Linked DNA regions of Homo sapiens: regions 2, 3, 4, 5, 6 and 7 are each reported to be linked to region 1. The links are microRNA targets in miRTarBase. Many come from high-throughput screens and were not tested one by one. Region 1 holds a microRNA gene; each other region holds the end of a gene's coding sequence.

Region 1 (4,073 bases):
AGTGGAGAAAGGGGCCGAGGGGCCTGAAGTGGTCCCTTCCGCCGGTTCCAAGCCATTCTGGTTCTCCTGGGTGCTGGGGCTGCCAGTGGTGGGGATGGGTGCAGGGGGGCCCTCACCCCCAGTCTCCTCCTCCAGCTCTTCCTCCTCCTGGACCTCCTCAGCCTCTGGCCCTGAGCTCCGTACCCTCTTTGGCTCTAGCTCCTCTCGGGCTGGGTCATCGCCCTCCCCACCCCGATCCACCTTCCGCCGCCGCCGCCTCTCCAGGGCCCGGCCCCGAGCCCGACTCCCGTGACGCTCTGCCTTCTCCAGCTGTGATTACAGACAGGCAGAAAGACAGGTTGTGGGCCAGTGGTCAGGCCTGGGCTCCCTACTCGGCCTGACCTCCTGGCCCGGCCCATGACCCCTCTCCTCACCTCCAGAAGTGTGCGGATCCTCTCCAGGTCTGGGGGCTGTCCAGCCTGCAGCAGCTGCCATATGCTGTGGTTCTCATCCAGGGTCACCTCGAGCAGGTCCCCCTCCATCATGAGCTCCTCCAAGGGGGCCCGGGTTGCCTCAGGCAGTTCCAACACAGGGCCAGTCAACTGTGGCAACAGCGAGGACAGCAGCTCCAGATCTAGGAGGTTGCAGGAACAAGCGGCATTAGAGGCTGCCCTTGGTCTTATCCCCACCACTACAACAGAGCTGAGGACTACATGGGTCACTATGGTGATGTGCAGTCAACAGCCTACCCACACCACACCTAGACCTACCTCTCTTACCTGAGCCCTCCTCCGGGGCTACCTTCTCAGGACTGGTCACACTGTCTCCATTCTCCAGTAAGCCCTGGACCTGCGGAGGAGAGCAAGAATAGGTAGGGGCAACTGAAGTGAAGAACCAGGCCCTATTCCTCCTCCGCCAACCCCAAACTTGAGACCCTCCGCCTTCTGGAGGAGGAGGGAAGACACAGGCTGCCAGCAGGGAGCAGAGTCTAGGAATCTGGACAGATGCAGAATGGAGTAGGAAGGCTGGTCCAAAGAAAACTGAAAATTGGAGAACAAGGGGCAGGGCCGAGCCTAAACTGGGGTAGGGGCTAGGAGACAAGAATCTGAGGACAAGAGCTGGGCTGAGTAGCTCACCTTAGGCATATCCTTGCCACTGCCCTCTCTGAGGGGGTCAGAAGCAGGGGCTGCAGGGTAGTTAGGAGGCTCCTCAGGTCTAGGTTCAGCCTGTAGCCGTTGGCGGAGCTCAGCCAGCCGTCCCAAAAGAGCAGTCACATCTTCAGAGGCCAGAGCCTGCCTGGCGCGGCCTTGCCAGCTGATGGCCCTCTCTGTGAGGCACTGCAGGGCCTCGCCCTCGGGCAGCCGCACAGGCAGTCTCTGCAGGGCTACCAGCAGTGCCAGGATGGTCTCCAGGCGCGGGCGCCTTGAGCGCATACACAGTGGACACAGGAATTTGGTGTCCCATTCCCACCAGGCCAGCAGTGGGGATGAGGTGGGATTGGGCCTCGGAGAGCTGAGGAGGCGAGGCACTGACACACACCGCCCATGGAACCAGTCCTGACACAGGTCACACTGCAGAGCTCCCGCCCCAGCCAGCACCTGCCCACACACACAGATAGAGGTTGTAGAGGAGGCCGTGCTCGATGATGCCAGTGGACTGGGCTTGGCCGAATTGGTGCGACGCAGCTGCAGGATACCCTCCTTCTCCTTCTGTTCCCCCTCCTTGAAGGCCACGATCTGCCATACCCAGGACAGGAGCAAAGTGGGTCAGCAGCCTACCCCTTCCCTTCTCTGGGCCCCCCCTTAACACCCCCACTCCCAAACCAGGAGAACTGAGGCTCAGGGGACAAGCGGTCTGCTCATGGCCACCCAGCTCAGACACTCTATCATCACCAAGCCCTTCTCCCCATCTGTGTCGAAGCTCCTTACCACAGAGCCTGGGTCCCTGAGGTCCTGCGCAGACAGCCCCAGCAGCTCTGTGTCAGATTTGTACAACCCCAGCTCCTTCTCCATCCACCGGCTGCGCTTGGTGCTGTCTGAGCCGGCATCTGCACATGGGCAGAGAACCTGGGGCAGGCAGACAAGAGAGGGAATGACTGGGCTTCCCTTACATCCCCCGCCTCCTTCCCTCCCTGGTGCCCCTACAAAACCCATGTTATCTCATGAGCCATCTCACAGAAGCCAGGGCAGGCGTTAAGAGACGCTGTAGGTCAAGGTCCCAGGCCTCACCTCCAGCAGCGTGTAGCAAGAATTTTTCTTGAGGAAGGTCTTGGAGGCCTTCTCCCTCCAGGAGTGCGCTGTCAGTACCTGTAGCTCTAGCTGTCTCAGCTCCTCCAGCCCCACAGGTAGGTCCCGGCCCACAGCTACTAGGCCCTCCAAGTCATCCAGGCAGGGGTAGTGGTCACCATTCTAAGGCCAAGGGCGAGAGACAGCTCAGTTCAACTTGCCAATGCTATTGATGCTTACTCTGTGCCTGGCCCTGAGCTGGAAAGATGAACTGGGCTCAGTCTTGAGGGATTAAAAAAATAGGTGTCATCCTAAGGAACAACCACTTGGCTCTCTCCCACAACACCGGCATCTACTGACTGGCTCAGCCCCAAATATCTAGTCAGCCTTCTGTTGTGGTTTGCCTCTTCTCCTCTCCTCCATGCCCCTGCCCTGCTCAGTCCCATACCACCTGCTTCCCTGGCCCACCAATCTCATCCTAACCAGTGCCCTCTCTTCCTTCAGGCCAGCCTCACACTCTTCCTCTCACCCTGCTCATCAGGCACATCTTGCCTCCTGACTACATGCCATGCCCCCTTCCTCTCTCCAGCCAACCCAACCCATCCCAGCAACCCAGCACATCCCAGTGTATATGCCATCTCTTCCCAGCTGGACTGAAGGCCTGGGGTGGGAGTGGCAGGGTCCTCACTTGGATCTCATCAACATCAGCAATCCAGGCCCGGGCCTTAGCAAGAGCCTCCTTGAGAGCCTGGATGTTGGGCAGGTGAACAGGGATGTTTTCCGCTTCACGGATTATGGCCTCAAGTGTGGCTGGTGGATGCTTCTGCCTAAAGGTAAGGAAAAAAAGAACGCTCAGTCTGATGTGGTCTGCCTGACCAGAAGCCCAGCCTGACCACCAGATATATCTGCATGGGCCCCTTGGGTGTCTGTTATTCCTGCTGTCACTTGGGCCTACTTGCTTGTATTCCACCTAAGGGTAGCTGCCAGTCCCTGCTTCCCCAAGACTGCATGCACCCAACTTCATCCCTTCTGCCACAGCTCTTGCACCTCTGTTTGTCTGCCAGTCTGCTGGCCTGCTAGCAATGCCTACATATACAACCTGTATTGTGTAATCTGTTGCTGCAGTTTGTCAACTGCCCTGTGTGGGGTCTTTCTACCAACATCTGCCCATCTGCCTGTCACTTGTGCTTCTGGGTATGCGCACATTAGCCTGTAGGGCTAGTCTTCTAGATAATCTCTATCTGTCCATTTCTGCTTCTCCATCAGCCTCTCTTTGCCTTTAAGTATACAGAGTTGTTTTTTAAAAAAACGACAAGATAGACAACAAAAGAGGGGAGAGTCAATACAGTAACACAGGAGCGTGATACCTAAGGCCACCCATGGGCATCCTCTTCTGGGTCTCCACTCAACTTTGATGTTTGGAATAGGGCAGGGAAGGGAAGCAGCAGCTGGACCTACCTGGCCTCCAGGCAGAGGTGGGCTTTCTCCTCCCAGCGTTCAGCAATGGTCAGCAGTTCCTGCAGCTCGGCCTGGGCTTTATCCACAGCAGGGCTAGGGGCTACACTGGCACCCGCGACCAACAGTCCTCGCATGACAGCCAAGGTGCCCCTTCGGGCTGAGGGGGCCAGTGTGCGTTTCACCTCATCCAGCCATCGCGCCTGTTCCACCTGCCGCTGGAGCTGCTGGGCCTCAGGCACCTCCACCCCCAGCTGCCGCCCCCTCTCCAACAGGGACTGCAGTAGCCCTGGACTGGAGGGCAGTGAGGCCAGGGCCTCACGAGCCTCAGCCTGGTAGGCCTCCACCTGTTCCAGAACACCCTACCAGGACACAGGATGAAGAACAAACTCCTCAGCTGGGCCCACTGAGGGG
Region 2 (4,000 bases), not on the chromosome of region 1:
TGCATTCCAGCCTGGGTGACAGAGTGAGACTCTGTCTCAAAAAATGAAAGCTAAAAATAATAATAATAGGCCAGGCACGGTGGCTCATGCCTGTAATCCCAGCACTTTGAGAGGCCAAGGTGGGTGGATCACTTGAGCTCAGGAATTTGAGACCAGCCTGGCCAACATGGTGAAATCCGTCTCTACTAAAAATACAAAACTTAGCTGGGTGTGGTGGTGGGCGCCTATAATCCCAGCTTCTCAGGAGGCTGAGGCAGAAGAATCACTTGAACCCAGGAGGCGGAGGTTTGCTGTAGCCGAGATCAGGCCACTACATCCAGCCTGGGTGACAGAGCAACACTCTGTCTCAAAAATAAATTAATTAATAAGAATAATAATAAGGTGCCCTTGTCGGCTGGGCACAGTGGCTCACACCTATAATCCCAGCACTTTGGAAGGCCAAGGCAGGAGGACTGCTTGAGCCTAGGAGTTCGAGACCACCCTGGGCAACATAGTAAGACTCCATCTTTACAAAAAATAAAAACATATAAACAAACAAAAAATTAAAAAGTGGGCCGGGTGCAGTGGCTCATGCCTGTAATCCCAGCACTTTGAGAGGTCAAGGCAGGTGGATCACCTGAGGTCAGTAGTTGGAGACCAGCCTGGCCAACATGGTGAAAACCCGTCTCTACTAAAAATACAAAAAATCAGCCAGGCATGGTGGCACACGCCTGTAATCCAAGCTACTTGGGAGGCTGAGGCAGGAGAATTGCTTGAACCCAGGAGGCAGAGGTTACAGTGAGCAGAGATCACGCCACTGCACTCCAGCCAGGGTGACAGTGAGACTCTGTCTCAGAAAAAAAAAAATTGAAAAGTGTCCTTGTTTCCTGCTTTCCACAGTTCCCTGCCCATTGAAGACCAGATCTCCCTTCTCAAGGGAGCAGCTGTGGAAATCTGTCACATCGTACTCAATACCACTTTCTGTCTCCAAACACAAAACTTCCTCTGCGGGCCTCTTCGCTACACAATTGAAGATGGAGCCCGTGGTGAGATGGTGCTAGAGCAATAGGGGGCATGTGTCCTCATGGTACAGGATGTGGTCAGGTGACCTAGAGGCTCCTAATCCTAGTATCTCCCACAGTGGGGTTCCAGGTAGAGTTTTTGGAGTTGCTCTTTCACTTCCATGGAACACTACGAAAACTGCAGCTCCAAGAGCCTGAGTATGTGCTCTTGGCTGCCATGGCCCTCTTCTCTCCTGGTGAGCACCTCCCAAAGCCCAGAGCCTTTTGCTGCACCACCTCTGCCCAAATACTCAGCTCCTTGAGTCCATCCACCCAGGCCTTCTAGCCTAGCTATCAAACCTGCAGACTAGGTCTATCCCAGCCTCAGTCCCCGGGGCACCACGCAGGCCCACCCCTGCCACCCAACTTGTCCTTCCCAGCTCCCTATCTTACAGACCGACCTGGAGTTACCCAGAGAGATGAGATTGATCAGCTGCAAGAGGAGATGGCACTGACTCTGCAAAGCTACATCAAGGGCCAGCAGCGAAGGCCCCGGGATCGGTACGGTGGGACACTGAGGGCTTGGAGGCCACACCAGGGCAGGAAGGGGTTGGTGAAACATTGAGCTTGGGAGGAATGTTTTTTTACTGTCCTTTCCTTAGGGAATTCAGGTATCGTGGGGTCTAGTCCTTCCCCCTGGCCATCCCTGTCTCACATCGTTTCAGCATCCAAATTGCTGTATTTGGATACTGCTGTTTCATCTCACTTTTTCCAGATTTTTTTTTTATTCAGTACAGATGCAAAGTAGTAGCTCAGAGGCTCTGGGTAATAGCATTCCTGAGATTGATGACATCCATTACCTCACTAGTCCAACTTCTCCAGACTAACGCAGACTTTTCTCTTCCCTTGGCCTTTCCTCTCCTCGCCATTGGGCCAATTCCTTCGATTTCTCATTTCCCTTGAAGTTAGGGCCATTCACAGTTTCATGGTCAAAGCCAGTTCCAGGTTCAATAGTCTGTGATTTATCCAGGCTCTGAGGTATGCACCGCTTCTGTTTTGCTCGTTCCTCCAAGAGCTAGTTTGGCCAGAAAGGGGATGCTTTATACCATAGAACACATCCACCTTCTAGAACCTGCTCTAGAAGGCCAGGCCCTCAGATTCCACATGGTTGGAGTTCTGGCCAAGTCTGGAGCTTTCTTCACACTCGGCTCTCAGAGCTCTGGGTTCAGAAAAAACTGAGCATGGTGAGAGAAGACAGTGTCAGACCGAGGCCCCCTGGAGGACCTTTGGAACCTCTGATAGTCTGTCATACCAGAGCATGATTTTCTCTAATGTTCAGACCTGGCTTCACTGAGGAATAGTTCAGGGGATCAGGGCCTAGAGACAAGACTCCCAACTGCCTTATTTCCCTCCTGTTTTCCTGGCAACCCCACTACTTCCTCCAAAGGTTTCTGTATGCGAAGTTGCTAGGCCTGCTGGCTGAGCTCCGGAGCATTAATGAGGCCTACGGGTACCAAATCCAGCACATCCAGGGCCTGTCTGCCATGATGCCGCTGCTCCAGGAGATCTGCAGCTGAGGCCATGCTCACTTCCTTCCCCAGCTCACCTGGAACACCCTGGATACACTGGAGTGGGAAAATGCTGGGACCAAAGATTGGGCCGGGTTCAAAGGGAGCCCAGTGGTTGCAATGAAAGACTAAAGCAATAACTGCCTCTTCATGCGGTCATGGGGATAGTGGGGGTGACCATAGGAACAAAGTTGTTCTCTGGAAGCACAGAAGATGGGAAGGAGGAAACCTCAGGGCTAAGAGGTAAAGAAGCTCCTTCTGGGAATGGGTGGGCCCCACTTCCTGAGACCAAACATCTAGCCCTTCAGCCCTACTTTCCCAGCCTTGGGAGGCTCTGGGATGGAAAACAGGATGGTCAGCTAATCCCATGCAGGATTAACCAAAGGGAAAGGAAGAAGGAAGCCTGAGGGCAAGGGGTGCCGGGGGAATTCAGCCATACCCCTTAATCCTTCTCCCTTAGTCCACAGCCACAAGAGCATGGGGAAGGTGATACTGGGGCTGGTAGCAGAGGGGGGATCCTCAAACCTCTGCCTCATCAACTGCCCCTGTGGCAGCTCCAGTTCTGAGGAGGGCATGGTCCTGTCCACCACTCTGCTCCTGGGTCCTAGAGATCACCCAGCAAGGTGGGCTCTGAAGAGGGGCCTAGTCTTTGGCCCTAGGGCACCTGACTCAGAGGTTCCAGCTGCTGTGGGGGCTGGCTCTGGACAACCTCAGCCCACAGTGATGCTGAAGCCACAATGGAATCTGTTGCGCCAGTGATTGAGGAAGGCTCCAAGGGCTAGGGTGACAGGCAGAGGGGGCATCTTCTTCTCCAGCACAGCACCTACACACCAGTTACTATCCACCAAGCCTGTTGGGGGAGAGAATACCCACTAGATTATTTAACAGGGATTGGAGGAAATAGTCACCAGAAGTAAGGTCGAGCTTCCCTCCCTCCTCTGCATCCCCCATTCCTCAGGATAGCCAAATGTCTCCCAATAACCCTCACCTCTAAATACCATGTTGGCCTGGGGCAGAGTCAGGTGGTAACCAAAGGAGAATGTTGTGTCTTGTAGCCTTGTGTTTGCCTCAAACTCCACTCCAACCTGAACCTGAGAACCATGGGCAAGGATGAGAGAGAGATCAGTATCAGTGAAGACCAGAAGGGTCCTGATGGGGAATCAGCAGAATGGAGGCATGCATGTAAATATATACACAGCGTGGTAGGAAGAAAAATAGGTCAGCAGGGCGATAGAGGTCCAGATGAACAGAAGTTCATGACTGACTTGCTGACAAGGAGGGAATGAGATCAGAGGTCTCACCTGTTCATTTGCCCTGTGGTAGTAACTTGCATGGGCCCCGCCTGATCCCACATTCAATGTAGCTACCCAGTGTACAGCTGTAAAATCCAAAGTACAGAGGGGAAGGAGTGTTAACTGTAGTATGACACAGGCCAGGAACCCCAGAAAAGTC
Region 3 (4,073 bases), not on the chromosome of region 1:
CTGTGGCCTTCCTAAGGGTTGGGGTGCATGTATAGGATATGTCAGAACAAAAGCCCTCTGACCGACTCATAGACCCTGGACCATGATGAGGCCACTTCCCACCTTGTCCCGTGGATCTAGCCACCGAGTGTCTTTTTTTTTTTTTTTTTGATGGAGTCTTGCTCTGTCACCCAGGCTGGAGGGCAATGGCGCGATCTCAGCTCACTGCAAGCTCCGCCTCCCGGGTTCACACCATTCTCCTGCCTCAGCCTCCCGAGTAGCTGGGACTACAGGCGCCCGCCACCAGGCCCGGCTAATTTTTTTGTATTTTTTTAGTAGAGACGGGGTTTCACTGTGTTAGCCAGGATGGTCTTGATCTCCTGACCTCGAGATCCGCCTGCCTTGGCCTCCCAAAGTGCTGGGATTACAGGCGTGAGCCACCACGCCCAGCCACCACCAAGTGTCTTTGGGGCCTTGGGGGCCATAATATCCCTGAGAACCACAGTTGTCCAAATCCTCCTTGGAACGTAGGTTTTCATCCTTGGGCCTGGGGCTATGGTAGAAAGACCTATTGTTAAAAAGACACTAAACGAGGCAGATGTCAGGGCATGTGAGATCCCTGCTTCTGCCAGCACGCTTTGCTGTATGCAGCCCTATTTTGGTGGTCTTTGCTGATACCCTAACAGCGTGCCTTTTGGGACTCCCCAATACTGTGGCACTGCACCTTTTTTCCTGTGAAATACACCCAGTGTTTCTCTCTTGCAGCTGAGAGCAATGATGGCTACCACATCATCCTGAAATGTGGACTCTGAGCAGCAGTGGACCTCATACCTGTCTCCAGCTCCCAGCCCTGTGGATCCCCGTGGATGTAGACATTGCCCCACTGTAAGCTGTGGCCTCACCAGGCAAGCTGAGGCCAGGAGGGACCCTGCCCAGTCTGTGAAAGCTACAGAGCACCAACCAGCAGAAGCCTGTGGACACCAAGTACGGTGTACAGAAAGCCAGTGGCTCCTTTCTCCCTTCCTCTTGGCCTCCAGATTTTGAATGGTTCCTTGTTCTTTTCTATTGGTCCAACCCTGACGTTCTAAAAGGGCAAACAGTGGAGACGTCTGCTCTGAAATCCCTCATCCCTTAGTTGGAAGCTGATTGGGTATCTTGGTGCTGCCTGTATTGGTCCCTTCTGACCACTCTCCTGCCTCCAGAGAAAGCTCTGCTTCACCCTGGAAGCTGGTACCTTTACCTCCTCCTCTGGGAGTTGGCTGCATGGCCAGCACTGCCGACTTGATGGGAGCAGTTTGCCCTCATTCTCCTGTTTCAGGTTTGCTTCCCTTCTCAGTGACCCTGGTGAGCATCCGCCTTTCCTGTTCTTGGATGAATTGATGGGAGTGGGGCTATTCTGTGCCTTCTACCTCTTTCTTCTCTACGTTGTTTCTAAGGATCTGCTGCTGCGGAACCCAAAGATGTGCTCCTGTCTCTGCACTGGCGCATTGGCATGGTAGATGCCACAATGTATGTGCACGGCCTTTCTCAGAGACATTAGTTCTGAGGCCCTTTGTGGGGAGGTTAGGGGGATGGTAATAGAAAAAGACTATTTTATTTCCTGGCAATCACGGGTAAGGAGGATTAGGAATGAGTATTCCATTCCTAGGTGTCATCAGATGACCTTGACCACCACAATACCAGGCCCTCTTGGATGGACTTATAGAAAGTTAGAGAAGACCTTGTTGAACCGCTGCTAAACTTGCCACAGGAGCGATGTGTTTTCTCTGAGTGCCCCTCACTTACATGTTTATCTTTGTTTGTAGAGGCTATGTTTAGGATATTTTGCCTGCATCAGAATGGGTGCATCATCTTTCTTAATGGCCTAACTATCGGGAAATTTGAGTGTCAGTAACTGTGGTAGACTCAGAAATTCGTCTTTGTCTTGCCTCTGGTTCCTGGGATCCAGTGATCTCTACTGGCCCAGGGCTTCAGCTCTTGGTTAATTTAGGTTCATGGGGAACCCTCTGACCACCTGAATGGGATGTCATAGCTTCTAAATGGAGCTTCTGTGGAATGAAGTGCTAGACTGAAGGACTACCAGAATAAAACAGGGTCTACAATGGGGAGAACTTGTTTTATAGATGAGGAAACCAAGGCTCAGAGGGGCAAAGTCACCTGCATGGTAGCACATAGTGATAGGGTAGCGATATAAATTTATCATATAAACCAGGACATCTCGGAATAAAAGGGGCTCTGTTAGTCATTATGTTGGGTAATAGCCGTGGCATTCCTACAGAACAGAGTGAGGACAGGCTCCTGATTCCTCTTCCTTCTTTAGAGGAGAAGCGGGGAGTGGGTTAACTAACAGCTTTATTGAGATGTCATTCACATGCCATTCAGTTTACCCATTGCTAGTGTCCAATTGTATTCACAGAACCACCATCAATTCACAGAATTACAGTCAACGTTGGTACATTTTCATCACCCCCAGTAAAACCCCGTACCCTTGGTCTGTCACTCCTGCTTTCCTAACTCCTGCAGTCCAAGGCAGCCATGAATCTACTTTCTATGTAAGATTAACCTACTCTGGACATTTCATATATCTGGAATCATGTGATATCTCTTTTGTGACTGGCTTCTTCCACTGAATGTTTTCTAGGGCCGTCCAAGTTGAGGATGTATCAGTACTTCATTCTTTTGTATTGCTGAATAATACTTCATTGTATAGATAGACCACATTTGTTTATTGATTCATCAGTTGATGGACATTTGTGTGTTTTTACTTTTTGGCTACTCTGAATGATGCTGCTATGAACATATTTCTACAAGATTTTGTGTGGACATATGTTTTCATTTCTTTTAGCAATATACATAGGAGTGGAATTGCTAGGTCTTACAGTAACTCCGTGTTTTAACTTTTTGAGAAACTGCCAGACTGTTTTCTATAGCAGCTGTACCATTTTACATTCCCACCAGCAATGTATCCAGGTTTCAATTTGTCTACATCCTCATCAACACTTGCTATTATCTGTCTTTTTGCTTTTAGCATCCTAATGAGTATGAAATGCTATCTTGTGGTTTTGATTTGCATTCCCCTGATGGCAACTGATGCTGAGTGTCTTTTCCTGTGCTTACGGGCCATGCGTATTTCTTTGGAGAAAGGTCTATCCAGGTCCTTTGCCTATTTTTAATTGAGTTGTCTTTTTTTTTTTAAGTTTTCTGTTTTCCTAACCACTAGACTACCAGGGATGAGCCTTCTTTTTATTATTGAGTTGGGTGAGCTATTTGTATATTCTAGACGCCAGTCTTTTATCAGGTATATGACTGGTAAAAATGTTCTCCCCTTCTGTGGATTGTTTTCAGTTTCTTGTTGGTGTCCTTTGAGACACAAAACTTTTTAACTTTGATGATTTCCAAGATACGTATTTTTTTTCTATTGTCACTTGTGCTTTTGGTGCCATATCTAGAAAACCATTGCCTAATCCAAGGTCAAGAAGATTAATGCCTGTGTTTTCTTCTAAGAACTATACTTTTAGTTCTCACAATGGTCTTTGATCCATTTCGAGTATATTTTTATATATGATGTGATGTAGGGGTCCAGCTTCATTCTTTTGCTTGTGGATCTCCACTTGTCCCACTGCTGATTATTGAGAAAAATATCCTTTCTCCACGGAATTGTCTTGGCATCCTTGCTAAAGGCCTCTGCTTCTTACTGGATCTTCTTTCCTGGGACATGGTGTCGTTGGGAAGCTTACCTTTTTTTTTTTTTTACTTAGTCTGTGTTTGGTTCCACCAGTTTTATGCTGCCTTTCTACTCTGTTCTTGCTGTCTCCCTCTTTACCTGAGTCAACGGTACTGAGTCCTATCTCTCTCTGATGTTCCCCAGTCTTCCTTGGTGCATGTTCTAGCTCCACACACTAGTCCTTGGAGGAAGGTTGAGACCAATGATTTCCTGTTATGAGTCATGAGGAAACTGAATCACCTAGAAGTGGAATAATGTGCTCAGGGTCACCATAGCCCATTAGTGGAAGGACCAGGACTAGACCTTTAGTCTTCTGAGGTCCAGCCCCTTAGGCTGTCTGTCATCACTGTACCCAAGTGATGTCACTACC
Region 4 (4,073 bases), not on the chromosome of region 1:
CACCCAGCGAGCGTGGCCCCGCCCACTCGCTCCGAGAGGCTCCTCCTACTCCATGCCCCGAGATCTCGTTCCCGGCGCCTCGCCCACCCATTTTTTTGTTTTTTTTTGAGATGGCGTCTCGCTCTGTCGCCCAGGCTGGAGTGCAGCGGCGTGATCTCAGCTCACTGCAAGCTCCGCCTCCCGGGTTCACGCCATTCTCCTGCCTCAGCCTCCCGAGTAGCTGGGACTACAGGCGCCCGCCACCACGCCCAGCTAATTTTTTGTATTTTTAGTAGAGATGGGGTTTCACTGTGTTAGCCAGGATGGTCTCGATCTCCTGACCTCGTGATCCGCCCACCTCGGCCTCCCAAAGTGCTGGGATTAAAGGCGTGAGCCACCGCGCCCGGCCTCGGCCACCCATTTTGCAAGGCCTTCGTCCACTCATTCCAGAAGCCCTGCCCACCCCAACCCTGGAAAGCCTTCCCCGGCGCCCCGCCCACCCCATCCCTGGAGAGCCTGTCCCCGGCGCCCCGCCCAGTCACTCCGAGGCCCCGCCCACCCCTGAAGACCCGCCCACAACCCCGAGAGGCCCCGCCCGCAACCACAAGAGGCCCCGCCCAGCCGACCCCTCGGAGCTGACCTGGTCGGCCCCACCCTCAGTGTCCCCCTGTTCCCCCAATGCCCCTGCCTGGAGCCGTGGACTCCCTACCAGCGCCCAGCCAGGAGCCAAAGCAGCTCAGGAAGAGAGGCTTGCTTTTTAAAATTTATTTTAAAACATGAAACCCAAGCTGAATAGAAACCACAGAAATTACATTGACGAGATTTTTAGTATTTGCCAAGAAAAAAAGCCCCCAAAGAAATAAAAATCAGCCCCCAAACCCAGTTCTAAAAAAACAAAAAAACACAGCGACAGTACATACAGCCATGGCCCTACAGAGGCTGGAGGAGGGGGAAATGCAAAATGGTTCAGGCCTCAGTTCCTGGATGTTAAATCACACTGGGGTGGGGGAGGTCAGATGCCCAGGCCGGGGGGGTAAACCAGGAGGCTGAGTCTTAAGGAGATTATATATATATATATTATATATAACAAATATGAAGTGGTTCAGTACACAACCATTATGGTTAAACACAAAACAAAGATCCCACAGGAGAGGCCCTGGTCCCCCGCCTGCCCCCTTGTCTGGGGTTCTGGGGTCCAGGGGGCTGCCTCACCACCCCTCTCAGGGCTGGGGCAGAGCTGGCCCCAGGGCAGGAGCAAATGTTGCTTGGAACTCGAATTGCATAGTGAGATGGGTGGGTGGGCAATGGGCCAGGGGCTGCTCCCAACCAGGCCCATTCACTACCAACCTTGCCATGACATGTGGGGGGCCCTGGGGTAGTGGATGCCTGCTGGGGAGCACTCTCAGTGAGGTAAGCCCCTGGGCTCCTCCCTCTTGTCCCCAGGGCCACCCTGTCCTCCCAACGAGGCTGTGGGCCTGGGGGCTGCAAGACCCCCTGTGCAGGGTGAGAGTGGGGGCTGGCCATGGCAGCAGGCACCAGCCAGATGCCCCAGTAGGTGTGGCGAGGTCATGGGATGGAGTAGTTAGGAACACGGCACCGAAAACTCAGAACAAAAATACAACCAATGGCAGGCGCTCCCCTCCACCTACTGAGGTGGGGTTTGAACCCCTTTTGATTTTCCCCGTTTCCTTTCTTCAACCTTGGTGAGTAGAAAGTCACAGACGGGCACACACGCACACCACGGTCAGGAGTCCCGAGACAGCACGAGGCTGGAAGCCCTGGCCTCACCGCCTCTCACGCTATGTCCATTCACCTGGCAGGCAGCCTCACGGCCATGGACAGCATTTGTGCTTCTGAGCGGTCGCAGGGCGTTTGGCGGGCACCCACGCCAGGGTGCCAGGGCCTCTCTCCTGGCCCTAGGCCTGGAGAACTCCCCTGGCGGGTCAAGCCCAGAGGAAAGACTGGGCAGGTTGGCTGTGGCGGGGCCTCCGAGGGGGGCTCAGAATGTCAGCCAGGCGGGGCCTGAAGCAGAGGCCCCTCCACTGAGGTTTGGTCATGCCTGGGGAGCTCAGACGCCCCGGCTTGGGGCCCCAGGCCCATGGACTCCCCTCCCCACTCTGCCCTCCCATATTCCCCCTTTTTGGTCCCAGACACCAGCACAAAGAAAGGAGGGGTTCACAGAGGAAGGCCAGGGCAGAGCCTGGCCCCAGGGAGGGGATGAGGACATTTCCGGTCCAGGTAGCTGCCGGCTGCTCTGGGAGGAAGAGCCATGCGTCTGTAAACTGCTGGGGCTGGCGGCCCGCCCCACTGCAGGGCCCAGCCTTGACCCCTGCACGTGGCCATCCAGCTGCCCTCTGGCTGCCCCTGGCCTTGGCACAGGCATCGAGCCTCGAGGGCTGGGCTGGCTGGGCCAGGGCCGGGACCGGGAGGGGTAGCACGTCCGATCCTGATGTGGGGTGGCTCTGCCCTCCACGGCGGGAAGCACAGCAAACATCGTACACTAAAGCCAAAAGCACCATTGGGGAGCCTCGCTCCCACTTCATGGGGAGGAGACCGAGGCCACAGGGACCTCAGTCCAAAGCCCGCGGGAGGTTCATTCCCGAGGACAGTCCTCCTGGGGCAGCACCTGCCTGGGGAGGGGTGTCCAGGCCCTTGGGCTGCCTGTCGGTCTGTGGCACCCCCTGGAGCACCCCATGAAGAAACGCTACTGCAGCCTTGACTCCCAGACAGCTGCTCCGGCCTCGGCTCCAGCCCGGACTTGGGCTCACACTGCCGGCTCTGGGCCAGCTAGGGGCACCCGTGGAGTTTGGGGGTGAGGTTAGTGGTTAGTCCCAAGGGGGGACAGCAGGGGCTGAGGGATGTTCACAGCCGGCTCGGGTCCAGCCCCTCAGGCCGGGCTCCTGGGATGCTGTACCTGTCATGGATGGAAATGGAACCAAGAAGGGAGGGAAGGGGGGTGCCAGCGGTCCCCCTCAGCCCGCAGCCCCAGCCTGCCCTAGAGATGACAAATGTGGTTAGTGCAAAGAACGAACCAGACACAGCTGCCCAGTCTCTGGGTGGGGGAAGGGGGTTTGGCACCAAGAAGGCGGCCAGCACTGGGTGGCGGGTGAGCGGCCCGGGCTCCACGTGGCCCCTGCTGTCCACGGAGGGCTGGGGCCTCCAGCAGGGCAGGTGCTGAGGGAGAGAGTGAAGCTGGGGCAACGGAGAGAGGCCCTGCTGGAGGGGGCCTCTGGCAGCCGGCAGGAGGGGTGAGCCTGTGGGTGGGCGGGCTGCACAGGCGAGGAGGGCACTGCAGAGAGATGGGCACGTGGAGGGACCACGGGGTGACCTCAGGGCAGAGATGAGCAGGTGGCACGTGTCCCTGTCCCTCAGTGGCCAGCAGGCGCCAGCACAGAGCGGCCCCAGCCGTGCCTGTGAACTAAGAAGGGGTCCACAGAAGTGCCGGGCGGGAGGAAGGAGAGCTGTGGAGGGAAGGGCCGGGCGGCAACAACACAGGTTGGGTGCGGCCAGGGCTTGTAGGTGCGGCGACCATCTGCAGAGGGAGCGTGCCGGGATAGTGGGTGGCGTGCAGGGCTGGGGCATCGGCTGGCAGCAGCGTTCAGGTGTGACCCGAGTTGGCGGTACGGGCCCAGAGCCCCTGCGTCTCCACTGTGCCCCTGCGGGGAGGGGACAGGAGGGCAAGCGGCCTGCAGACGCGTCTGGGGCAGGCCTGGCACGGCGTGCGAGGGTCCGGTGGGTGGCCCAGGTGGAAGCGGCAGTGCTGGCACGGGGAGGGGAAGTTGGCACGTGGGGTGGGTGGCTGCCGGGCGCGGTCTAGTGGCTGCCGCTGGAGTCAGGGCGAGGCTGGCTCGTGGCGAGGTATTTGGCTCTCATGCTGGAGGTGTACTGGAGGGAGACAAGGGGGAGGCATCAGCAGGGCCCCTGCATGGCGCACGCAGCCAGGGGCGCCTTCCGCGTGGTCCTCACTTGGCTGAGCCAACAGCCCTGGGGGCAGAATGGGACAGTACAGGGTGCCCTGACAGAGCCTATAGGGAGGGGCTAAGGAGGGGCCGCTGGCTGGGGGCCCCTGCGCTCTAGGTCTGGCTGAGGCTGAG
Region 5 (4,073 bases), not on the chromosome of region 1:
ACATCTTCTCTTCCCTTTGGTGTGTCTCCCTGGGGTGGGCAGGACCCACTGCGGGAACATGCTGCAGCCTTACCTGAAGGACAACAGTGGCAGCCACGGCTCCCCCACCAGCGGTATGCTCCACGGGGTCTTCTTCAGCTGCAACACGGAGTTCAACACGGGCCAGCCCCCGCAGGACTCCCCCTACGGCCGCTGGCGCTTCCAGATCCCAGCTCAGCGCCTCTTCAATCCCAGCACCAACCTCTACTTTGCGGACTTCTACTGCATGTACACGGCCTACCACTACGCCATCCTGGTGCTGGCGCCCAAAGGCTCCCTGGGGGACCGCTTCTGCCGCGACCGCCTGCCCCTCCTGGACATTGCTTGCAACAAGTTCCTGACCTGCAGCGTGGAGGATGGGGAGCTGGTCTTCCGCCACGCCCAGGACCTCATCCTGGAGATCATCTACACTGAGCCCGTCGACCTGTCCCTGGGCACCCTGGGGGAGATCAGTGGGCACCAGCTCATGAGTCTGTCTACTGCCGATGCCAAGAAGGACCCCAGCTGCAAGACCTGCAACATCAGCGTGGGCCGCTAGGGACTCCTGGGGAGCTGGGGGGCGAGGGAGAGATGAGCGGAAGGTGGAGGTGGGTAGCCCAGGTTCAGGGAGCTGGCTTTCTCTCTCCTGCCCCCCTGCTCCCTCCACTCTGCCCAGCTGCCCTCCCCTCGCCCCTTGGCATTGGAGGCAACAGACGGTGGTCCTCTTGGTAAGTGTGGCCCACACCCAGCCTGGTGGACATGGAAAGGCTTCTCAGCCTCTGTAGTTGGCAGCTGGGCTGGACTTCTGGAGAACTTCCCCTTTCCTCTGGTTTCCTTGTCCTACTGTTCTTTGCCTCGTCCAGGTCTCTATCTCCCAAAGACCTGCCCACCTCCTGGGCTCTCCCAGGGAAGCCCCTCTGGGCCAAAGCCCATGGGTAGCTTGGCTGCCTCCAGAAGAGATGCAGAGAGCTGTGGGGCGATCTTTCTTAGTCCCACTCACCCCACTCAGGGCCAACCACAGAATGCCCCCTCCCTGCTGAGCTGGGTCTCTGGGGCTTCCCACTCCAGGCCTGGATCCCTTCCTTCTATAAATAGTCTCCTGCACCACCGTGACTCCCTGGCTGCTCCTTGCCCCAAAGAACCCTCTTCCTGCATGGGAGAGCTGTCCCTCCTTCTCCACCTGCCCACCGGGACACTCCCCCTGCTCTCTAGAAAGGAACTCTCTTTCTTCTCTTGGCACTGGGGGCGTCAGGCTGTCGGATGTTCCTTCCTTCCATACCCCAGCATACCTTCTCCTTGCTTAGAGTGCAGGGGTCTGAGACAGCAGCCACTGGGGTTGAGGAGGGGGAGGAGACCCCTGAGACCCAGAGGTGCCCCTTCCTCAGCTGGGAGTGGGCCGCCTCATGCTCTGCTGGGGCCTGGCATGGAACGTGAGACCTGTAAGCTGTCCCGCGGGCCCCGGCACCCCGCCCAGCTGTGCACTTTGCTCACTCGCTCTGCCATGGTGCCATGACTGTACTGTGCCCATGCGTGACCTGGACTGTGGACCCTCTGCTGCTCCGCCTCTCCCCTCCCCACTGGCTCTGTCTGCTCTCCTGCCACCCTGCTGGCCGGGAGCCCCTCCCCGGGGAGTTCTTGGTGAAGTCCTTCCCGGGCCTCCTTGTGTTTTTGCCTCATTCCTACTGTCACACAGGTCACGAGGGTGGACTCCCTACAATCAACAAAGCAAACAGAGAGCCTGTGGGAGGGGCTGACAGCAGCAGCCGGCTGTTTGGGGGATGATGGAGGTGACATCAGGCAGAGGAGAGTGCAGCCTCACAGTGACTTTCTCAGAGGTGACAGAGATGATGGATGAGCAGCTGGATTTTCGTGATGAAGGACGGAAGCAGCAGCGGGCCGGCAAGGCCATACCTCGGTGAGGGACAGGTGGACAACGGTCACCTATCTGTAGCCAGGGGCAGTTGTGTGGCCAGCTGTCTCTCTGGGATGAGTCAGGAGGCCTGGAGGCTTGGGGAGAGGTGTGGAGAAGGAGAGAACATGGCCCAGGCCCTTTCCTTCCCCCTGTGCTGACAGCATTGCTGTGGGGGTGGCCCACTGCCCTCCCCTGGCCCTCATGTCCCCCCGGGGCTGGGGTCCGCCTGCCTGTGCTGTGCTTGCGACGTGCATCAATAAACCACCATGGCCTGAGGGCCCTGCTCGTCTCAGTCCATTTGAGCTGCTGTAACAAAATACCACACATTGGGTGGCTCAGAAACCGCAGATTCATTTCTCATAGATCAAGGTGCTGGCAGAAGCGGTGTCTGGTGAGGGCCTGCTTCACAGATGGCTCTTTTCACTGTGTCCTCACAGGGTGAAAGGGACTAGCAAGCTCTCTTGCCCCTCCTTTTTTTTTTTTGTAGACATGGGGAATTTCACCTTGTTGCCCAGGCTGGCCTCAAACTCCTGGCCTCAAGTGATCCTCCCACCTGCTTGGCCTCCCAAGGTGCTTGGGATTACAGGCATGAGCCACTGCTCTGGGCCATCTTGGGCCCCTTTCATAAAGGCACTAATCCCATTCATGTGGCCCCACCCTCATGACCTCATCGCCTTCCAAGGCCCTGCTTCCTAAAACTATCACCTTGGGGTTAGAATTTCCACCTAGAGCTGGGTGAGGTGGCTCACGCCTGTAATCCCAGCATTTTGGGAGGCTGAGGCAGGTGGATCAGTGGAGGTCAGGGGTTCAAGACCAGCCTGGCCAATATGGTGAAACCCTGTCTCTACTAAAAATACAAAATTAGCTGGGCGTGGTGGTGCATGCCTGTAATCCTAGCTACTGAGGAGCCTGAGGCAGGAGAATTGCTTGAACCTAGGAGGCGGAGGTTGCAGCAAGCCGAGATTGCGCCATTGCACTCCAGCCTGGGTTACAGAGTGAGACTCCATCTCAAAAAAAAAAAAAAAAAAAAAAAAAAAAAGTCAACCTAGGATTTAGGGGGGACACAAACATTCAGACCATAGCACCCCATCCCTTTGGGCCAGTGATGGTATGGGTGAGTTCTGCAAACCACAGAGGAGCTCAGGTGGGAATGCCCCCAGGACAGGCGACCTGAAATCAGCTCCAAGGGAGCACCTCGTCCATTGTGGGAGGCGGGGCTCAGGATGTAGAGCTGAGTCTCCAGCTTGGAAGGGACTTTGGAGTCTTTTGGTCCCACCCAGTGTTTCCCATATGGGGCCTCCCACATGGGGCGTCCTAGGAGAGGACTCACAGCATCTGGAGGCCCCGTTTGGAGCTTTTGAAGCCTTCCTACTACAGCAGCTTGCCATTGCTCCAGACCCAGATGCCACCAAATGTCCCTGTCCCAAGTGCCTGAGTGTCCCCGCTCCCCAACACAGCTCCCGTTTATAGATCCCAGTCACCTCTGCATCTATCATTTTATTATTATCATTATCATTATTATTTTTGAGATGGAGCCTCGCTCTGTCACCCAGGCTGGAGTGCAGTGGCACGATCTTGGCTCAGTGTAACTTCCACCTCCCAGGTTCAAGCAATTCTCCAGCCTCAGCCTCCCACGTAGCTGGGACTACAGGTACATGCCACCATGCCTGGATAATTTTTGTATTTTTAATAGAGATGAGCTTTCACCATGTTGGCCAGGCTGGTCTCGAACCCCTGACCTCAAGTGATCCACCCACCTCAGCCTCCCAAAGTGCTGGGATTACAGGCATGAGCGAGCCACTGTGCCTGGCCATTATTTTTATTTCTTGAGACAGGGTCTTCCTCTGTTGTCCAGACTGGAGTGCAGTGGCACGATCATGGTTCACTGCAGCCTCAACCTCTGGGGCCCAAGTGATCCTCCCACCTCAGCCTCCAGAGTAGTTGGGACCACAGGCGTACACCACCATGCCCAGCTAGGTTTTTTAACATTTTTTATTTTGTAGAGATGGAGTTTCCCTGTGTTGCCCAGGCTGGTCTCAAACTCCTGGGCTTAAGTGATCCTCCTGCCTCCCAAAGTGCTGGGATTACAGGCTTGAGTCACTGCACCTGGCCTGCATCTATTGTTATGGACTTATTGATATGG
Region 6 (4,073 bases), not on the chromosome of region 1:
AAATAGAGCGAGGAAGGCCAGTTAAACTGTTGCAATAACCCCAGATGAGAAATACTGAGGGTCTATTTTAAATCTTTGGCAGTAGGAAGGTGAGACCAGATGTGAGAGAGATTTTTGAAGCAGTTTTGTTGACCACTTGGTATGGTGATGAAAGGCAAGTATTAGTTAAGGATGACATTGATGTTTCTACCTTGGGAGGCCAGGCAGATAGATGGTGATGCCAGTCACTATGTCCAGTGATGAATAAATAGGTCAAAATAAATATTTATTAATGACATTGTTAATAGTATAGTGTGAAAAGCATTCTCAGAAGCAGTGAAAAGACCCAGGATTGTCATTCTAGCTCTGTCATTAACTTGATAGATAATTTTAGGAAAGTAGCTTAACCTCTCTGAGCCTCAGTTCCTTCATTTTTATTTATTCATTAATTTATTTATTCATTTATTTTTAATTTTTTAATTTTTAGAAATGGCGTCTCACTATATTACTCAGGCTGGACTCTAATTCCCGGGCTCAAGCTATCCTCCCTCCTCAGCCTCCTGAGTAGCTGGAATTATAGGCATCAGACATTGCGCCTGGCTTGCACAATAATTTTTTAAAATGTAAGGGGGCCCTAAGACCAAAAAGTGTGAAAACCACTCATCTATAGAATAGAAATAATGTCAGCCCTTTGTACTTTAGCTTGGTTGTTATGGAATCAAAGAAGACTCTGTACAGTCACTTTAAAAAGCTCAAGATGTAAGATTGATCATTATTACTGTCCTTAATTTTGGTGACTTTTTTTTTTAAGATGGAACAGATTAAACGTGCAAACCGCCTTTATACTAATGACTCCATCTTCCTGAAGAAAACCCTCTACATCCCCATCCTGACAGAGCCCAGAGACCTGTTCAATGGTTTGGACTCTGAGGAAGAGAAAGATGGAGAGGAAAAAGTACACCCAAGTAACAGTGAAGTTTGGCCACACTCAACTGAGAGGAAGAAACAAGAGACAGGAGCAGGACGTGCCAATGGTGAAGTCCTCCCCACACCTGGCCAGGAAACCCCCACGCCCATCCATGACCTCTCTGCCTCTGATTTCCTTAAGAAGCTTGATTCACAGATCAGCCTGTCCAAGAAGGCTGCTGCTCAGAAGCTGAAAAAAGGGGAAAATGGGTGAGTCTTGAATGGTTCCTTATAAGTTCCTCCCTAGACTCCTCCATCATTCCTGTCTTACCTAACCACAAACACAAGTAAGTAAGGACAGTGCCAACAGAGGCAAGGTGATACCTTTCCCCCATGTGGCCCCAAGATAATGAGCAGAGGTGATGGCTGCTGGCCTGGGTAGAGGCAGTGGAAAACTGGGTTCTGTGTTCTTATTGGAGTCAGACAGTTAACTATTTTTTTTTTTTTTTGAGACGGGGTCTTGCTCTGTTGCCCAGGCTGGAGTGCAGTGGCGCGATCTTGGCTCACTGCAAGCTCCGCCTCCCAGGTTCACGCCATTCTCCTGCCTCAGCCTCCCGAGTAGCTGGGACTACAGGCGCCCGCCACCACGCCCGGCTAATATTTTGTATTTTTAGTAGAGGCGGGGTTTCACCATGTTAGCCAGGATGATCTCAATCTCCTGACCTCGTGATCCGCCAGCCTCGGCCTCCCAAAGTGCTGGAATTACAGGCGTGAGCCACAGCGGCCAGCTGACAGTTAACTGTTTTTACTGCTCTGATCATCCATGAAGGAGCATTAGGGTTAGGATTTATCTAGAGGGTACTGAGACTGTCTTGAAGCAACCAGCTTATGTATTAGAAGATAGCTTTCCATGTACCTCTCACTTGGCCCATTGTCAGGTTCTTCCCTTGATCTGTCACTCTTTCCCCCCTTTCCTCAATTGCAGGGTACCTGGGGAGGATGCAGGTCTCCACCTGAGCTCCCCTTGGATGCAGCAACGAGCAGTCCTAGGTCCTGTGCCGCTGACCCGTACCTCTCGGACCCGGACACTACGGGACCAGGAGGATGAAATCTTCAAACTCTGATGTCCCCAGAACTGACTGAGAGAAGCAAGATGTTGAAAGAGAAACTTCAGGGGGAGAGGAGCCTGAGGTGAGGCTCAAGAACATGGCTTATGAGCCTGCCTCCCTCCACTCCAGCCATCCTCCCCAGCCTCCTTGTCTGCCAAAAATTCCTTGGCCTGGGGCAGTTTTATTGGCAAGATTAGGGAATGGGAACTGGACCTTTCCCAGTTCTTGGGCTGAATCTAGAGTTGAGTCCTTTAGACTCAAAAGGCTCTTTTTATATCCTTGTTGCCTTTCCTATCCTTTTTACCTTTCCCTGGCCTTAGAACAGGGAAGCAGAGACTCCCCCTCAGCTTCTTCCTCATCTCCAACTATGTGACATAATTTATTTGGTGCTAATATTGAAGTAATATTTATTTGCTATATTTTATTTCTTCCCACTCTTAGCTGAAAAATGGAATTTCTATAGCCCTGGGGTGAGGAGAACCCGGGAACAGTGAGCCAGTGACTGCTGGTTCTCCACTTTCCCCACCTTGTTAGCCAAACATGTTATTGAGGATGAGGCAATCGGTGATATAGCCCACCACAGAGAATGGATGACTGTTGGCCTTTTCTCCAATCTCAAAGTGACAGATTTGGGCTGATTCTTTTTTTTTTTTTTTTTGGTACCCCATTCCTGTTGAATGGGCTCAGTCTTGACAAACCAATTCCCTGTAACTTTTTCACAATTCTTGACTCTGAGAAAAAGCAGCACTGTAGGGACCTGAACTCTCCATTCTACCAGTTCACCCTTCTGACCTGTTCTGCTCAGCCTGTGGTGAGGGGAACAGATGGAAGAAGGCTTTCCTTGGGGTTTGAAGAGGAAGCCAGTTGTGGGAGTCTCTTTGTTACACCCCCTCCCCTCCAGACCCTCTCTCTCTATGCCTTCCTCCTCACTGCATATTTATTTGCGATTTGTAGCACTGATCTATGGTACAGTTGTTTTGTTTCTTAAACAGAAGTAGGTAAGGGAACCTCAGTAATAATGGAAATCTGCCTCAGTCTCCTGTTTGGAAATGATGAGAGGTGAGATAAGTAATGTTTATATACCTCCTTTCTTCTGTGATGATTATAAGGTATACGAAGCTGGACAGATTAAACATTGAGCCCTGTGCATATTTTAGTAGTTTTATTTCCCCTATGAGAATCTCCCCTGCCCTAGCCCCTTCTTCCTGCACTCTGGAACAGAGCCTCTGGCATCTGTCCAAGCTCTGTCTCTAAGGGCCACCTTCCCCTCTTCTGTCTTTAGTATCCCCAAAGGGGTTCTCTGGGCTGTGCCTCCTTTCCTTGGTTCACATGGGAGGGGGCTTCCCTGTTTCAGAAGTCCCTTATGGGAGAAATAGAGATCCAAGTTTCACTTCACCTTTTTCAGGCAGTTCTGTTTCCTGTCCTGGGGCTGGAGTGGGAGAGAGGCCTCACCCCTCAGCATTGCTCCTTCTCCACTAGCTGTTTGGGGGTGGGCTGGTCTCAGAGTCAAAAGCACTCTTGGGAAGGAATGAAGCCTGAAGATTGAAAAGTGTTAGTGCCAGGTGAGCAGGGTTAGGAAGCCCATTATCTGTGTTTTCTCAGTCAACCATTTTGTCAAGGTGGAATGTGCTAGGCTCAGGGCTCTCAGAGCTTCCCTTCGTCTAGCAGCTTCCTGAGTCCGTCACAGATCTTGCCAAGGTGCTGAGTGAAGTCAGGCCCATAGAGGGCCGTGAGCAGACCTGGGTCAGAGAAGTGATCAAACACGTGGCGGATGCGGCCATGTGACTTGGGCGTGAGGTGGTGTTCCACCAACTCTAGCAGCACATCCCGGCACTCGGTCAGCAGGCCAGCCAGAACAGCAGCCTCGAAGGTGAAGTCTACCTCACCAAAGCTAAGTGCCGTCATGGCACCCTGCCGCAGCTTCTGGCGAAAGCGGGTAGCCAGGGCCAGCTCACTGGGGCCAAAGGAGCCATTGCGGTGCAGCACAGCCACCTTGATGGCCACTTTGATCAGGTCCTTGATCACGCGCTGGGCCTGGGGCCGGCTGTGCGTGTACTCCTTGGACACACGGTAGAGCTC
Region 7 (4,073 bases), not on the chromosome of region 1:
GGGCCCAAATGACCCTCTTGCCTCGGCCTCCCAAATTGCTGGGATTATAGGCATGCACCATCATGCTCGGCCGTGGCATCTGTACTTGGCTGCTTCCTGAAAGCAACCTCACTAGCTCTATAGCAGCCAGCTCTTTCCACCTCTCAGCCTTACGCACATGGGCCTCCCCGCCAAGTATACTACCCACCTCCTGTCTCACAATCCCAGCACCTCAAGATCCATCCTTGTCTCCACCCCTGCCTATACACATGCAGGTGCCCCTGGGCCTCACCTCAGGTGTCTGGCCACCTGGTCAATGTTGGACACGTTCAGTTGGTCCTTGATGATGCTGAGATCTCTGTGACCGCTGCTGGCAATGAAGTCACTATCACTCTCCGCATGTTGCTCACCCCAGGCCTTCAGGACCCAAATATCACTTCTAGGCAACTGTTTCTTTTCTCACAAAGGCAATATAATATAGTGCAAAGAGTAAGAGTTTGGGAGCCTAGGTTTGCAAATGAGCTCTGCCACCCTTCATTGTGTGTGACTTCAGGCAAATCACTTATCGCTTCTGAGCTTTAGTTTCTTTTCCTTTTTTTTTTTTTTTTTTGAGACAAGATTGTGCTCTGTTGCCCAGGCTGGAGTGCAGTAGCACCATCTTGGCTCACTGCAGCCTTGACATCCCGGGCTCAAGTGCTCTTCCCACATCAGCCTCCTGAGTAGCTGGGACTACAGGTGCGTGCCACCACGCCTGTTCAATTTTTTTGCACAGATGGGGTCTCACTATGTTGCCCAGGCTTCTTTTTTTTTTTTCTTAGAGACAGGGTCTTTGTCACCCAGGTTGGAGTGCACAGGTGCAATCATAGCTCACTGCAGCCCCGAATTCCTGAGCTCAAGCAATTATCCCACCTCAGCCTCCCAAGTAGCTGGGAATACAGGCATGCGCCACCTCACCTGACTATTTTTTTTTTCACTTTTTGTAAAGATGGGGTCTCCCTGTATTGCCCAGGCTGATCTCAAACTCCTGGCCTCAAGCCATCCTCCCGCCTCAGCCTCCCAAAGTGCTGGGATTACAGGCATGAGCCACTATGCCCGGCCTTTAATTTCCTCTTGTGCAAAATGGAGATTTTGCCCACCTCCTCAGGCTGTGTGAGGATTAGAATAAGAAGTTGCTGCCATCCACTTATGAATATTTTATCTCATTCAGTCCCAGCTGTAAATACCATTTGTGACCATCCTCTTCAGCTCTCCCTGCCTCCCTAGCCCAGCCCTCACTCCTGTTCTCTAGGCCAGAGGAACAACCGCCTGCTGGACATGGCTTCCTTTCTTCCCTCTTCCTACAAAGCTCTTCTCTTTCATCTCCCTGAAAACTGCTCCTCATACTACAACACGCAGATCAAACCACTTTCTCCAGGAAGCTTTGCCTGTCCCCAGGCTAGGCAGGTGTTTCCTCTGGGTTTCAGTAGCCCTCATGGGCTGATAATCTCTATCACAAGTGGCGGTGGAAGTGCCCAGCCCGTGACTGGAATCTCCTGCATGGAGCCAGGTGCAACCCACCAGTGGGCTAGGGCCCTCTGCCAAGCAGGGACAGATCCCTCTCTCCTACCATCACCTTACCTGGGCCCACCACCTCTCATCTGGAATATCTCCTGTTCTGGCAAATCACACCTGGGCTCCTCCAAGGCAAAGTGCAGGACCCTGGGGCTATACTGGACCCAAGCTTGGGCCTGGTCCCTGCAGAAGGTGCACAGGAAGGAAGCTGAGAGGCTCCTTTCTGGAAACCACAGAAAAGGCAACCCTGGCTCCTTGTTAGGGGCAGCGCTAGCCCACCTGGTATCTAGGGAAAGGGCCCAGGCCTGAGGCTCCCACCTGCCCTCACAGATGGCTTTGTGGCGGAGACCCTGGAGCAACTGCCGGAGCTCCTGGCGCAAGAGGTCCTTTAGGAGAGGCGGTGGTGCCAGAAGAGAAGAGGGGTCAGAGATGGGGCGGGAGCTGGGGGCTTGAGAGGATCGAGCCTCTTGGAGCAGTGCCCGTAACATCGCCACCTGCAAGGAGAGCTGGGATACCTTGCGACTGGGGAGGGGAGTGTCCGGAATGGTGGGGGCTGGGGGAGTGAGGGAGAGGGCGGAGTCAAAGGGGAGACCAGGATAGGATCTCGGGAGTTACCCGGCAGGGCCAGGGACCCGCAGAGGTGGGAAATCACCCGAGTCGTGGGGCAGGCCAGGGGCGTGGCCCACCTTCCCTCTCCCCACCTCCGCCCGCAGCTCCAGGCTCAGGTCCACCGCCGCCTCCCCCAGAATCCTCTTCACTTCGCGTCGCTCCCGGAGCGGAACGTGCTCCTCCACCAGCTCCCACAGCGAGGGGGAGTGCCGGAGCATGACCCACCGACGCCGCCGTCCCCGGCTCGGACCTACGGGCCGCAGGTCAGAGTGCGGGAGGTACCGCGGGCCCGCCGGCAACGCTCACCAAACCCCGCCCCTCTATGGGCCCCGCCCTCTCCCAAGCCCCACCCGTGCTCTGCCGCTGGTCCCCTCGGCTGGGATTGCCCGTTCCGGAACTGCCAGTCCTTGGCGCTCTCTTCTGCCCGGCTTTTGGCCGACTCGGATGCCGGGGGCCCAGAAACCAGGCAGTGGGAACCAGGGCCCTAGCCCCACCTCTTCCGCGTGGCCATCACCCGGGAAACCACGCCGCGACTCTAGGGCCCCGCCCCCTCCCGTGTTTGGTCCGGCGGGCGGCGCGTGCCGGCTGGGAGTTCAGACTCACCTCGGCGCTCCACCGAGCCCTGACCCAAGCACTTTGGGCTCGGCCCTGGGCACCTTTAGGCCTCAGGGAACGTGTTAAGACCTGAGAAATCTGGGTCCACGGGTTTATTACTTCGTCGCCTCCACTGTCCCGGAAGCAGTGCAAGGACAAACTTCCCCTTAAGGCCAGTGAAAGCCTAGGGAGTGGCAGCGCTTGGAGAACCAGGATGGCCCGGGTCAGGTTTACTTGTTGGGCCAGGTTCCCCAAGTGCCCTTCCACCACAACACACTCAGGGTAACCACGTTCAGGGACCCGACCCCCACCCCCAAACAGACAAGGGAGCTGCTCCATTCACGTTTTTTACTAAAGCACCCACACAAGTTTCTGTGCAATGTACAAACACAAGCCGGCCCTGGGGCTCCTGCCTCCTCTCTCAGACAGGGAGGCGGGAACCAGACTTACTGATCCAAGCCCCACCTGCCTCCCATGCAAAGGCCAACCCCAAGATCCCAGGCAGCGACACAGCATCCCCTCTGGTCCCCTCCTGGGGCTGCTCCTCAGCAGGGGGCGCACCAAAGCTTGCCCCCTACAATGTTGAATGAAAAAGGTTTCCCCTCCCCTGGGAGCAAGGGGGTTCCCAAGAGCTGAGAATTCCCCCTGGAAGAGACACTGCCCCCTAGACATACCTCCCACCCTTCCAGGCCCTAGGGGACTCAAGGGGGGGAAACTGAGGCACAGAGAGGTGGAGTGACCTAGCCCAGGCCACTCTGCGAGGCAGTGCAGGGGCTGGCCCGACCCTGACAGTGACTGGGGCTGGGCTAGGGGGAGGGGGTCGGGAAGGAGGGTTGACTCCAAAGAGGGCCACACTTGAAGAGCCTGCCCAGGCAGGAGGCCCCCCAAAGTGGGTTCTGAAACTTCCAGGTGTAGCTAGGGGGCCTAGTGAAGACCCTTGGAAAACAGAGCCCAGTCTCAGTCCTGGAGGTCCTCCACAGAGCAGCTGCCAGCCAGGCTGTGGTCAGTCCTCTGGCAGGCAATCTTCGGCACCGAGAGCCTCTGTCCATTAGTGTCAGCCCCGAGGGGGCCACGACGGAGGCCGCCCAATGTCCACTGTGATATTGGTGAAGAGTGGTTGCCGAGACACCTCCAAGACCTGGTACCGCACTGACCCAATGCCGTCCCGCTTCATGGTCAGCTTCGTGTTTTGAATCTTGGTAAACCTAGATAGGATGGAAATGGTCCACATCAGGGCTAACAACTGTAAACTAAAAATAAAATCCTACACCCCCCAACCAACTAAATGGACCCCCTTTTGGCCAAGGGGACCCCAGGGAACCTTAAAAACAGGGTTTCCA

The links. Region 1 holds the annotated microRNA hsa-miR-6895-5p (CAGGGCCAGGCACAGAGUAAG, at 2,440-2,460, opposite strand). A microRNA usually pairs through its seed, bases 2 to 8, with sites in the 3' UTR of a target mRNA and lowers its output. Matches are read on the target gene's strand: a 7mer-m8 pairs with bases 2 to 8, a 7mer-A1 pairs with bases 2 to 7 and ends in A, and an 8mer does both.
Region 2: miRTarBase lists TOMM40L as a target of hsa-miR-6895-5p. Seed matches in the 3' UTR shown: 8mer at 1,947-1,954.
Region 3: miRTarBase lists TFCP2L1 as a target of hsa-miR-6895-5p. The part of its 3' UTR that is shown has no 7-base or 8-base seed match.
Region 4: the mRNA of TTYH3 is a reported target of hsa-miR-6895-5p. Seed matches in the 3' UTR shown: 7mer-m8 at 1,421-1,427.
Region 5: miRTarBase lists PHYHIP as a target of hsa-miR-6895-5p. Seed matches in the 3' UTR shown: 7mer-m8 at 2,124-2,130.
Region 6: miRTarBase lists TNFAIP8L2 as a target of hsa-miR-6895-5p. Seed matches in the 3' UTR shown: 7mer-m8 at 3,248-3,254.
Region 7: the mRNA of B4GALT2 is a reported target of hsa-miR-6895-5p. Seed matches in the 3' UTR shown: 7mer-m8 at 3,579-3,585.

Annotation. Positions count from the first base shown.
Region 1 is chrX:53,193,024-53,197,096 of GRCh38, forward strand. MIR6895 (microRNA 6895) reads right to left here and starts at 2,465; the gene lies at 2,388-2,465. It overlaps KDM5C (lysine demethylase 5C), which reads right to left. Exons shown (of 26, transcript NM_004187.5): 19 at 3,663-4,021; 20 at 2,893-3,031; 21 at 2,208-2,387; 22 at 1,908-2,045; 23 at 1,116-1,715; 24 at 750-828; 25 at 414-613; 26 at 1-309.
Region 2 is chr1:161,228,354-161,232,353 of GRCh38, reverse strand. It overlaps TOMM40L (translocase of outer mitochondrial membrane 40 like), which reads right to left. Exons shown (of 10, transcript NM_032174.6): 8 at 3,850-3,926; 9 at 3,537-3,639; 10 at 1,608-3,398. The coding sequence ends at 3,259. NR1I3 (nuclear receptor subfamily 1 group I member 3) reads left to right here. Exons shown (of 9, transcript NM_005122.5): 6 at 880-1,025; 7 at 1,121-1,237; 8 at 1,436-1,541; 9 at 2,428-2,685. The coding sequence ends at 2,557. Among named protein-coding and RNA genes, the nearest start is that of MIR5187, 3.2 kb to the right of the region's middle.
Region 3 is chr2:121,221,059-121,225,131 of GRCh38, reverse strand. TFCP2L1 (transcription factor CP2 like 1) reads left to right here. Exons shown (of 15, transcript NM_014553.3): 15 at 745-4,073. The coding sequence ends at 791. Among named protein-coding and RNA genes, the nearest start is that of TFCP2L1, 62 kb to the left of the region's middle.
Region 4 is chr7:2,661,459-2,665,531 of GRCh38, reverse strand. It overlaps TTYH3 (tweety family member 3), which reads right to left. Exons shown (of 14, transcript NM_025250.3): 14 at 730-3,864. The coding sequence ends at 3,793. Among named protein-coding and RNA genes, the nearest start is that of AMZ1, 25 kb to the left of the region's middle. RefSeq lists an enhancer at 363-657.
Region 5 is chr8:22,217,857-22,221,929 of GRCh38, reverse strand. It overlaps PHYHIP (phytanoyl-CoA 2-hydroxylase interacting protein), which reads left to right. Exons shown (of 5, transcript NM_014759.5): 5 at 43-2,227. The coding sequence ends at 577. Among named protein-coding and RNA genes, the nearest start is that of PHYHIP, 12 kb to the left of the region's middle. RefSeq lists an enhancer at 1,216-1,916.
Region 6 is chr1:151,158,818-151,162,890 of GRCh38, reverse strand. It overlaps TNFAIP8L2 (TNF alpha induced protein 8 like 2), which reads right to left. Exons shown (of 2, transcript NM_024575.5): 2 at 3,142-4,073. The coding sequence ends at 3,639. The region is part of intron 1 of TNFAIP8L2-SCNM1 (TNFAIP8L2-SCNM1 readthrough); the gene reads right to left. LYSMD1 (LysM domain containing 1) reads left to right here. Exons shown (of 3, transcript NM_212551.5): 2 at 791-1,155; 3 at 1,871-3,143. The coding sequence ends at 2,009. Among named protein-coding and RNA genes, the nearest start is that of TNFAIP8L2-SCNM1, 4.2 kb to the right of the region's middle.
Region 7 is chr1:43,990,163-43,994,235 of GRCh38, reverse strand. It overlaps B4GALT2 (beta-1,4-galactosyltransferase 2), which reads right to left. Exons shown (of 7, transcript NM_003780.5): 7 at 3,068-3,938. The coding sequence ends at 3,788. CCDC24 (coiled-coil domain containing 24) reads right to left here and starts at 2,637. Exons shown (of 9, transcript NM_152499.4): 1 at 2,490-2,637; 2 at 2,232-2,389; 3 at 1,849-2,024; 4 at 1,597-1,713; 5 at 272-349. The coding sequence starts at 2,357. RefSeq lists silencers at 2,184-2,233, 2,374-2,483.